Linked DNA regions of Homo sapiens: region 2 is linked to region 1. The links come from fine-mapping of genetic effects on gene expression. A gene starts in region 1. The other region holds a variant in brackets. All regions are shown on one strand. Distances are between the middles of the regions.

What was found. PIP is the estimated chance that this variant, and not a neighbour inherited with it, causes the effect.
Region 2: its variant is the best candidate, but not a certain one, in a credible set for the expression of EBF1 in testis (GTEx, PIP 0.87).

The regions. Positions count from the first base shown.
Region 1 is chr5:159,098,101-159,102,488 of GRCh38, reverse strand. EBF1 (EBF transcription factor 1) reads left to right here and starts at 2,573. Exons shown (of 16, transcript NM_024007.5): 1 at 2,573-3,144. The coding sequence starts at 3,011. It overlaps LINC02202 (long intergenic non-protein coding RNA 2202), which reads right to left and starts at 2,006. Exons shown (of 3, transcript NR_109890.1): 1 at 1,651-2,006. RefSeq lists enhancers at 1,038-1,664, 1,665-2,293, 4,043-4,388 and a silencer at 3,111-3,400.
Region 2 is chr5:158,919,017-158,923,404 of GRCh38, reverse strand. All of the region lies in intron 6 of EBF1 (EBF transcription factor 1), which reads left to right. Among named protein-coding and RNA genes, the nearest start is that of EBF1, 180 kb to the left of the region's middle. The variant T/C (reference allele first, on the strand shown) is at 2,642.

The DNA.
Region 1 (4,388 bases):
AATGGAGGTTCAGGCAGATAAAGAGAAGGAGGCCTAGGCCTTTTGCCAGGGCTATATGGGACCCATTGATAGGATGGGTGGGCTTTGCTTCCTCATCTCCTTACCTTCAAGGATCCTCTCTGAGCTGGAGAATATGGCCCAGGCAGGGGGAGGGATTGACTCTGGGGACCCCTTTGGACCTGGAGCATAAGGTTAAGTTTGGAGCTTTAGAAAGTTTTTAGCAGGCCAAGTTTCAATTGTGCATTTAAATACTATAGAGACTGAAAATGTTCACATACCTATCCCCAAAAACCTACAGCCCTTCAAGTCTCTCCACCATTATACTCTTCTTCGACATGAACGCTATGTTAGGAACCCCTGTGAATGCTATGGGGATCCCAAAAGATCAGACCAATCCCTTCAGGGAAGTCCTGGAAGAGATGGCATTAATTATGGTACCAGGGGAAAGTGCTCAGCACACAAGAAGTCTAGATTACATGTGTGAGAGCTGGGCAGGCCTCGTGCACAGGAGATAAAGCAGTGTTTGAGGACAGTGGCCATGCACTGCAGGCCAGGACCACACTCTTTCATCCAGTTTAGGAATCAGGAAGTGGCTCCACTGCTCTGCCAAGAGCACAAAGCATAACTCTTGCCTGTCTCTATTCAACATGGGCATGTGTACTTTTCCATCACTGACCCCATGAGCTTCCTAAATCAAAGGACCAAGGAAGGCCAGCAGAAAGGGGACCTGGATTTCTGGCAGATAATTTCCCCGAAGGAGTCCTTAGCAGATTTGGCTGCAGTCAGGGAGTTCCTTTGAGGGCAATGAAACAGAAGTTCACCATGTGCTTATTAGAGGTTACAACCTGCTAAAAAATGATGGGGTACATTACCCAGAAACTTCTAGCTATTTCCTTTGCCAGCCACAAAGATACATGCTGAAAAGCCTGAGGAGGGAGACAATTTCGTCCTTTTTTCTTTCCCTTTTTCCTTCCATCTCTCCCATTTCCATTCGTTCCTTCTCCTTCTCTCCTTTCTCTCTCCCTCCTTCCTTCCCATTTTCTCTTCCCCTTCTTCCTTTTTTGTCCTTTCTCCCCACCTTCCTTCTCTTCTCCCCCCACCCTTTTCATATGGCAGAGACAGAGTTAGGAAGGATTTGTTCAAGCCCTCCTTTTTAACAGGAAGAATAAAGGAGGATGAGAAAAACCCTACACCAAATAACCAGCTAATCAAGGACGGTTAACATTGCTGTTGCTTTGGTAGTTACTCTAAAAACAAACGAACCAACTACTTGGGGTGGGGAATGAGGGGTTGGCATTTAATTTGAGAAAATTTAAAAACGCATCCTGACACAGCCCCAGTGAGAGCATTCATTCCACCATTCACATATCTCGAGGACTGCCCGAGAGAGGTGAGCGTGTGAGTGAGAACAGTGCCCAACCCTGGCAGCCTCTAGGCTAGCGGCCGAGAGAGAAGCGTTTCAGAGGCCGGGGTGGGAGTAGAGCCTGGTACCCCACTTCCTGGGGACCCACAGCGCCTCATTTGCCGGGGCCCAGCGTCCATTCATCCCTCCCAGCGTGGAGGCCGTGCCCCTCCGAGAGTTACCAGCCCCGACCTCGCGCACCCATATTCCATCCCACCGCCCCCGCCTCAAAGCGAAGAGGTGGGCACCTGGGACGCGCGTCCTGCTTTTTCTGCCCGGGCTCTCCCGTCTCCTCCACTTTTGTCCCCGACGTCCCAGAACGGCGGAGCAGGACGCGGCATCAGCCCTGGGAGGGCGCAGCCTGCGAGCCTCCAGCGCGCTCAGGGCGCGGCGAGGATGCTAAAGGACTGCAATGGCCAGGATGCAGATCCCCAGCTCAAATTCCTGAGGAAGACACCCGCCTCCCTTTCCCTCTGTCCCCTCTCCGTCCTCGCTCGGACCCGCTCCTCCCCAGCCCAGACGTCAGTGCTCAGCGCTCCTTCGCTCGCCACTTTGCGAGGAACTTTGGCCGGCTCCCCTGCGCCACCGGGAGCGGGATGTTAATGAGAGAGCGTGGCCTGGCGCCGCCAGCGAGCCGGCTCCCGGGCCGCGATTGGCTGCGGTGGGCGGAAAGATGACGTTATGCAAATGAAGGGGCGGGGCCTCGATGCGCGGGCCCCGCCTCCTCCCTTTGGGGTTAGTGTGCCTGTGTTTAGCTCTGGGGAAAGTCAAACTGGATTCCATAGGGAAAGCCTGCAAATCACTTCTATTTTAGCAAGGAGAAAACAGAATCTCCATCCAGCAGGGTCCACCCCTCTCTCTTTCTCCCTCTCCTCTCTATCTCTCTTTCCCTCCCCCCCTTTCCTCTCTCCCTCTCTCCCCTTCCCCCCACCCTCTCTGGTGTATCTGTCTACGGCAACCAGCGTCCTCCTCATCTACACGCAAAGGAAAGAAACATCTTTGGTTGGGAGAGAAGGAGGAAAAAAAAAGAGAGAGAGAGGAAAAAACTTGCCTGGTTGTGGAAAATGACACTTGAAGTAGCAAAGCCGGCAGCGCGAGTTGAGTCTATTGTTTCTTAAATTGCCATCAGGGTTTTTTTTTTTTTTTTTTTTTTTTTTTTTTTTTTTTCTTCCTGCTTCTTCAAGTGAAGGGTACCTCTACAAAAGGAAACTCCAGCCCCTCCTGTCCTCCACCGGCCTGTGATCATTACAAAAAAAAAAAAAAAAAAGCAAAAAAAAAAAAAAAGCACCCAAACCAAAAATCAACCAACCAAACAACCCCCAACAGCCAAGCATACATCTCTAATTTTATTATTTTGGTCTTTTCGTTGGATTTTCCCTTTCTTCTTTTTTTCGGGTTATCGCTCAGTTTTGAGCAGAGGTTTACATTTTTTAAAAATTTGCTTTCCAGCCCGCCTTGATCTTCTAAGTGCGAGTTCATCGTCTGAGAAAAAAAAAAATCTCTGGTTGGCGTTTTTGTTTCTTTTCTTTTCTTTCTTTTCTTTCCTTTTTTTTTTTTTTTAATTTTTTTCAAGGGGGAGGAGATTTTCCACAAGAAAAGGTTGTTTTCATGTTTGGGATTCAGGAAAGCATCCAACGGAGTGGAAGCAGCATGAAGGAAGAGCCGCTGGGCAGCGGCATGAACGCGGTGCGGACGTGGATGCAGGGCGCCGGGGTGCTGGACGCCAACACGGCGGCGCAGAGGTGGGTACTGCGCGGGGACCGCGGCCGAGGTGAGCCGCGAGCGGGAGAGCCGGGAGGCGGAGGCGGCAGCGGCAGCGGCAGCTGCTGCCGCGGGGCCGGGCGGCGGGGTGAGTCCGCAGCCGCTGCGCTCCGCTCTCCGCCGGGGCTCCGCGCTCTCCAGCCGCTCTGCCTTCGTCGCCTGCGGCCGGAGGACCTGGAGCTGTCTGCGAGGAGCCCACGCTTTGCCAGCACTTTCCCCTGCCTCGTCTGTGACTGTTTTCATTTTGTTTTAACCCAGAAGAGGCGTCTCAACACAGCATGTTGGAGATCTGTGTTTTATGTTTTTATGTGATTGCTCTTTCTTTTCCGGCCGGCTCTCTTTTCTTCTTTCCCTTCGCTCTTCCTTTCCCTCTTTTCTTTTTTCTTTCTTTCTTTCTCTTCCTTCCTTCCTTTTTCTTTCTTTTTTCTTTTTCTTTCTTTTTTTCTTTCCTCCTTTTCTTTTTCCTTTTTCTTTCTCTTTCCTCTTCCTGCCTTTCTTTTTTCTTTCTTCCTTCTTTCCTTTCTCCCCCCTTTATTTTCTTCTCTTCTCCTTCCTCTTCCTTTCTTCCCCTCTTCCCTCCTTCCATTTCTTTCGTTCTTCGTTCTTTCCTGTCTCTCTTCCTGCCTTCTTTTCTTTCTTCTTTCTTTCATTTCCTTCTCTCATTTCTTTCCCCCACCTTCCCTTAATTTCTCCCTCACTCTTTTCCTTCCTCCCTTCCTCTCTCCATTTTCTTTCTCTTCTTTCTTCAGCTTCCCTCCTTTCTCCTCTTTCTCCTTTCCTTACCTCTCTGGCTTTCCTGTTTTTTCGTCCCATTTCTCCCCTGAGTCTTCTCTTATTTCTGCTATCTCGTTCTCCTTCCCTCCCTCTCTGTCTTTCAGTTTTTTCTTAGTCTACCGGTAGAATAGCAACTCCCAACTTTAATTCTGATATCTCCCAAAAGTCTTCTCCAGCCCCTGTCACCATGGCCCCTTCCAGCCCTTCTCTCACTCGCAGCTCCCTAGACACTAGACTGTGTGGCCTGGAGGCATTGCCCTTGGAGGTTGACCTGAGGGAACTTTCCTGGGCACACCCAAGGCTCTTTCCCAGGCTCCTGGTCCCAAGTGAGAAATGGCCTTTTTCCCCCCATTAAGCCACCAGCTGAGCTTGGGACAGTGGGAGATCTGGTGGCCCCAGGCCCTATCGGACTCAGAGTGCGGAAGGGGAAGAAGGAAGATGACTAATTACA
Region 2 (4,388 bases), 180 kb after region 1:
AGATGGATTCATTTTCATCATTAAATATGGGATGAGAATGCCAGATAAGTTTTAATCTGTAATTTTAAGAGAAGGAGAGAGAGGAGGAGATGATTTTTATGGATAAAGTAAGGTTGGGGATATACTTTGAAAAGGAAGCTTTTCAGGCAGCTGTTAAAATCTTTAAAAAAATTTTACCCCCATTGGAAGGGTGTTACTTATCACCTGGACCTGGAGAATTTTAGAGCTTTAGGAATAAACTGACAGTTCTCTGATTCTGAGCAGTCTAGCTTTGCTTTGATGAAGAGGCTAACGCTCTTCCTGGGTTTTGCTGGAAAGCCCCAAGGCCTTCGGGCTCCACGGAGGGGCTTTCTGCGTTCAAATCGCCCCTCCTGCTAATAGACCACCTAATTGGCTAATTGTAGGCTCAGCCATTCATTTCGGCTGCAATTAGCCACTTACTTCTTACTTTGCAGATACAAGTGGCCACTTGAATTCTCAAAAAGTCCATTGTGAATTCAGTTATTTGTGTGTCTCATTCCACCTGGACAGAGAGTGGTTAGAAAAAAGAGTAAAATAAAATAAATGATAGTCCTTGAAATAAAATCCCTCTGAAATCTGGCTCAGGCTTTCTCAATTCTGAAGTGACAATAACCTGAACAGTTCTTTTTTCAAAAAATGCACATTAAACATAAGACACACATATATCCCAGTAACTGGAGACTTAATTTTTCTCTTAGTGTCCATAATGTAGAGCAAGACATACCCACCTGCTGTTTTTCAGCTTCTTAACTTTCCGTAAATCTACTTTTCCAACCCTTAGATCTGCTGTGTGTAATTTAATTGGCTACTGTACCTTTCTGTATAAAATGAATGTGCTAATTTCTAGAGTGATGCATTAATTCTCTTTGTTATCCACAAAATTCTGGAGAAATGGAAGATCTATTTTAAATGTCTGCCCCTTGCTGACTCTGTCTTCCAGCAAAGTGGAAGAACTATTGTTTTCCTACACCCTTTTGATGTGGTCGGTTATTGTTATGTTGGGTCAAAGGGACTTACCTGGGGGATGACAGATGCAGACACTCTGCCACCAGCTTCCTTAGAAGTGCACAATAGCAACCAAATCAAATCACTGAGAGGATACTGGGTAGAAAGTTGCTTTTGGGGAGAATTCTAGGAAAGAGAAGACTGTGACCTCTGTTACTGCACAATGTCAAGGACAGATGGGAAGAAGGTATGAATCAATATATGTCAACGGCACAGATGGTATAGCCATACAGTGTCCACATCCTGATTTTCTATCCCCTGAAACTGAAATTAATAATGCCTTCATTATAGGCAGTAGCTGCCAAGCAGCTGAGAGAACCCAGCACAACTAAGAGCACTGCTCTGAGCAAGGTGTTTGAAACAGGAGTTTTCGCTGTCTGTCTCTGTCTCTCTCTCTCTTTTAGAAGATTAGGAATGCTATGGATCGTGAGGCAAAAGGGAATCATCTTTTGATGCTGAGTTTTACAGGTTCAATAAACCAAAGATAGAGCAACTGTGGTTGCTTCGTGCTTTGCAATATGTTTGTGCCAGGGAATCTTTCCCCAGGTTCTGGCCATGTCATAAGGGAGAGGGTTAACTTTGCTGTGCCAATTATTGGGCTTGCGGTGTTGAAGATCTCAGACCAGGGTTGGAAGTGGAGTGCAAAGTAAAAATAAGCAACCACAAACCGCCAAAACAAGTATTGGTACATCTCTACAAGCTCCGGCTGGTAATGATGAATTCAGTATTCATCACATGGACTAATTAATGCACGCTAACACAGCCCAGTGCAATTTGCGAGTCACAGATTGCATTAGGTGATACAAATGACTCATTTGTGAACCTGAAGGATGACCTTTGGCAGGACTATCTGCTGACCTCAAAAATATTAAAGAAAGGTTATTTCACCTTGCCATTGTCTCCAAATGCCAAAATAGCCCAATTAAAAACCTTGACTTGGAACCATAGGAGCAGATGCGAGTCCTAAAGGGCATTAATTATTTTCAGTGTCAGCTGGTTGTATAACTGAGGCCAAATGAGAGTTTGGAAAGCTATTAAGGCAGTGTATTATATGCACTGGGTCTAAGATTTGAATTCAGAATAAGGTGTAGATTTCATCTATTTAGGCAAGCTGTATAGAATTTGTGCTGGCTGTCCTGTTAAGGATTAAGGGCTAACATAGGCGAAACGAAGCTCATCACCCTTGCTGGGTTCTTCCCTCTGTAATCATTCATCTATTTTCCTAAGTCTATTTGCAGAACCATCATTAGTTACCATATTGTGAGGTCAAACGCATAAACGTGTGCAGCATTAGCTTGCTTCCAAGTGGACTTTTCTCCCTCTCTACAAGTCTAAGCACTGCAAATGATCCTGTACTATTTCCACCCCCAAATGTGGTGACAGATGAAGATATGTACCCAAGCTAGGTTCCCATATGGCTAATTTCTACATTTGTTTTAACAACATGCAGATTTTTAGGCAAATTAAAACACAGGGACTTCCATATTCATGGCATCCTCTCCAGTGCTGTCATCCCTTCCACCAAGTGGGTTTCAGGGAGTCACGCTGGTGCCAGAGCCTGCACTAAAAGGAAAAGGGGCAAGCATATCTATGAGGTGTGATTGACTCACAAGAG[T/C]TCCTGTTAAAAAAAAATGGAGCCAAGTGCAGTGGCTCATGCCTATAATCCCAGCTACTTGGGAGGCTGAGAAGGGAGGATCATTTGAGCCCAGGAGTTGCAGGCTGCAGTGAGCTATGATTGCACCACTGCACTCCAGGCTGGGCAACAGAGCAAGACTGTGTTTCTTTAAAAAAAAAAAGAAGAAAGAAAAGTTCCCTTGGCATTGCCTGCTGCACATGCCTTTCAAGTCACTAACTTTTACTGTGGACACTGGCCACCAAGGCCTGCCATGTGTCCAGTAGGTACAAAGCAGAGGTATTGGAGGGCAGGGAACGACATATTCTTTTCAGCCTCTTTAGAGCTGAAGTTTCAGATTCTGGTTCACCTTCACATCCAGTTGAAAGGGATGGAAAAGGTAGAACAATATGATAGGAAGTCCAGGGGTTTGGGGACCAGACAAATCTGGGTTTGGATCTCAGTTTGGTTATTTAGTTGCTGTGTAAACCTGAGCATGTCCCTAACTCAGCTTCAGCATCCTCACCTCAATCATGATACCTGATAGGATTGTTAAGAAGATTACATTAAGCATATGTGTGTATACACACACACATACACACACACACACACATATGTATATAATGAGCACCTTTTTTGGAATACATCTTTCTAAATATTGATGATTTGTAATTTCTCATATATATATGTTGCAAGTTATGTACACATATACCTAAAGAGGTGCTAGGATATCATGGTTATTGTTATTTTTATTGTGGGGAATTTATAGACAGTTTTCAGAGATCTGATTTTTTTCCTCTAGATTTTTCTTTCTGTCCTTTTGTGGGGCTATGGGCAATGCATATAGCAGAAAAACACAGCTTAGAAATTAGAGTCCTGTCTTTAAAGCCCTGTTCAGTTGGAAAGTTGCTTAATCTTGATAAACTTCAGATTCCTATCTGTAAATTGGGATAATAATATGTACCGTCGTGTTTTTTGAGAGGATTAAATGAGATAATCGATGCATATGGTGCTTGGCATTTGGTAGGAGTTTGATCAATAAATGCAACTTTACTCTCCTTGCCCTCAGAATATTCCTATCCTTTGTCCCCACATATGCTGTTAATAAGCCTTTAGTTGAGAGAAGATGTGGTTCTGTTTCAGGTTTCCCAGGCTAGTTCCCTGGTGTTTATTTATTCAAAAAAATGAGCACCGTTGTTGGAATATGTCTTTGCTAGACATTGATGATTTGTAACTTCTCATTCTCAAAGTTGAAGGGAGATCTGCTTTTTCATTTGGTGTCTTTATGTTTCTCTGTTGTTTTCCAGCACATTATTTGGTGACATCCCATGTTATAGATTAAAATATTGCAGGCATCAAGATTGTTCTCACTGGCCTCTCAGATATGATTGGTGTTATCTATGAGATAACCCTCTCCGGGGATTTTCTCCTCTGGCTACTTAGACCACATGTTACCCAAGCAACATGAGTACCATGTTCCCCCTACAAGGTTGTTATTATTCCAAACTTCCATTTCAAAAAAAAAAAAAATCTTAATTTCATCCTAAGACCCTCATAAATGCCAGCAGCTGATGAAAGCAGGTTTGTTTCTTGCTCTTTGGGAGGTGGCCACCCATGTCAGCACTGGAGAGTGTCTGCACATCCTCGCAGGCCCAACAAGTGCTAAACAGATGGAGTGAGTTCAGAGCTGAATTACCAAGGAGAAAATTCTGTTCTTTCACCAAATGTGATTTTTAACAGCCATTTGCAA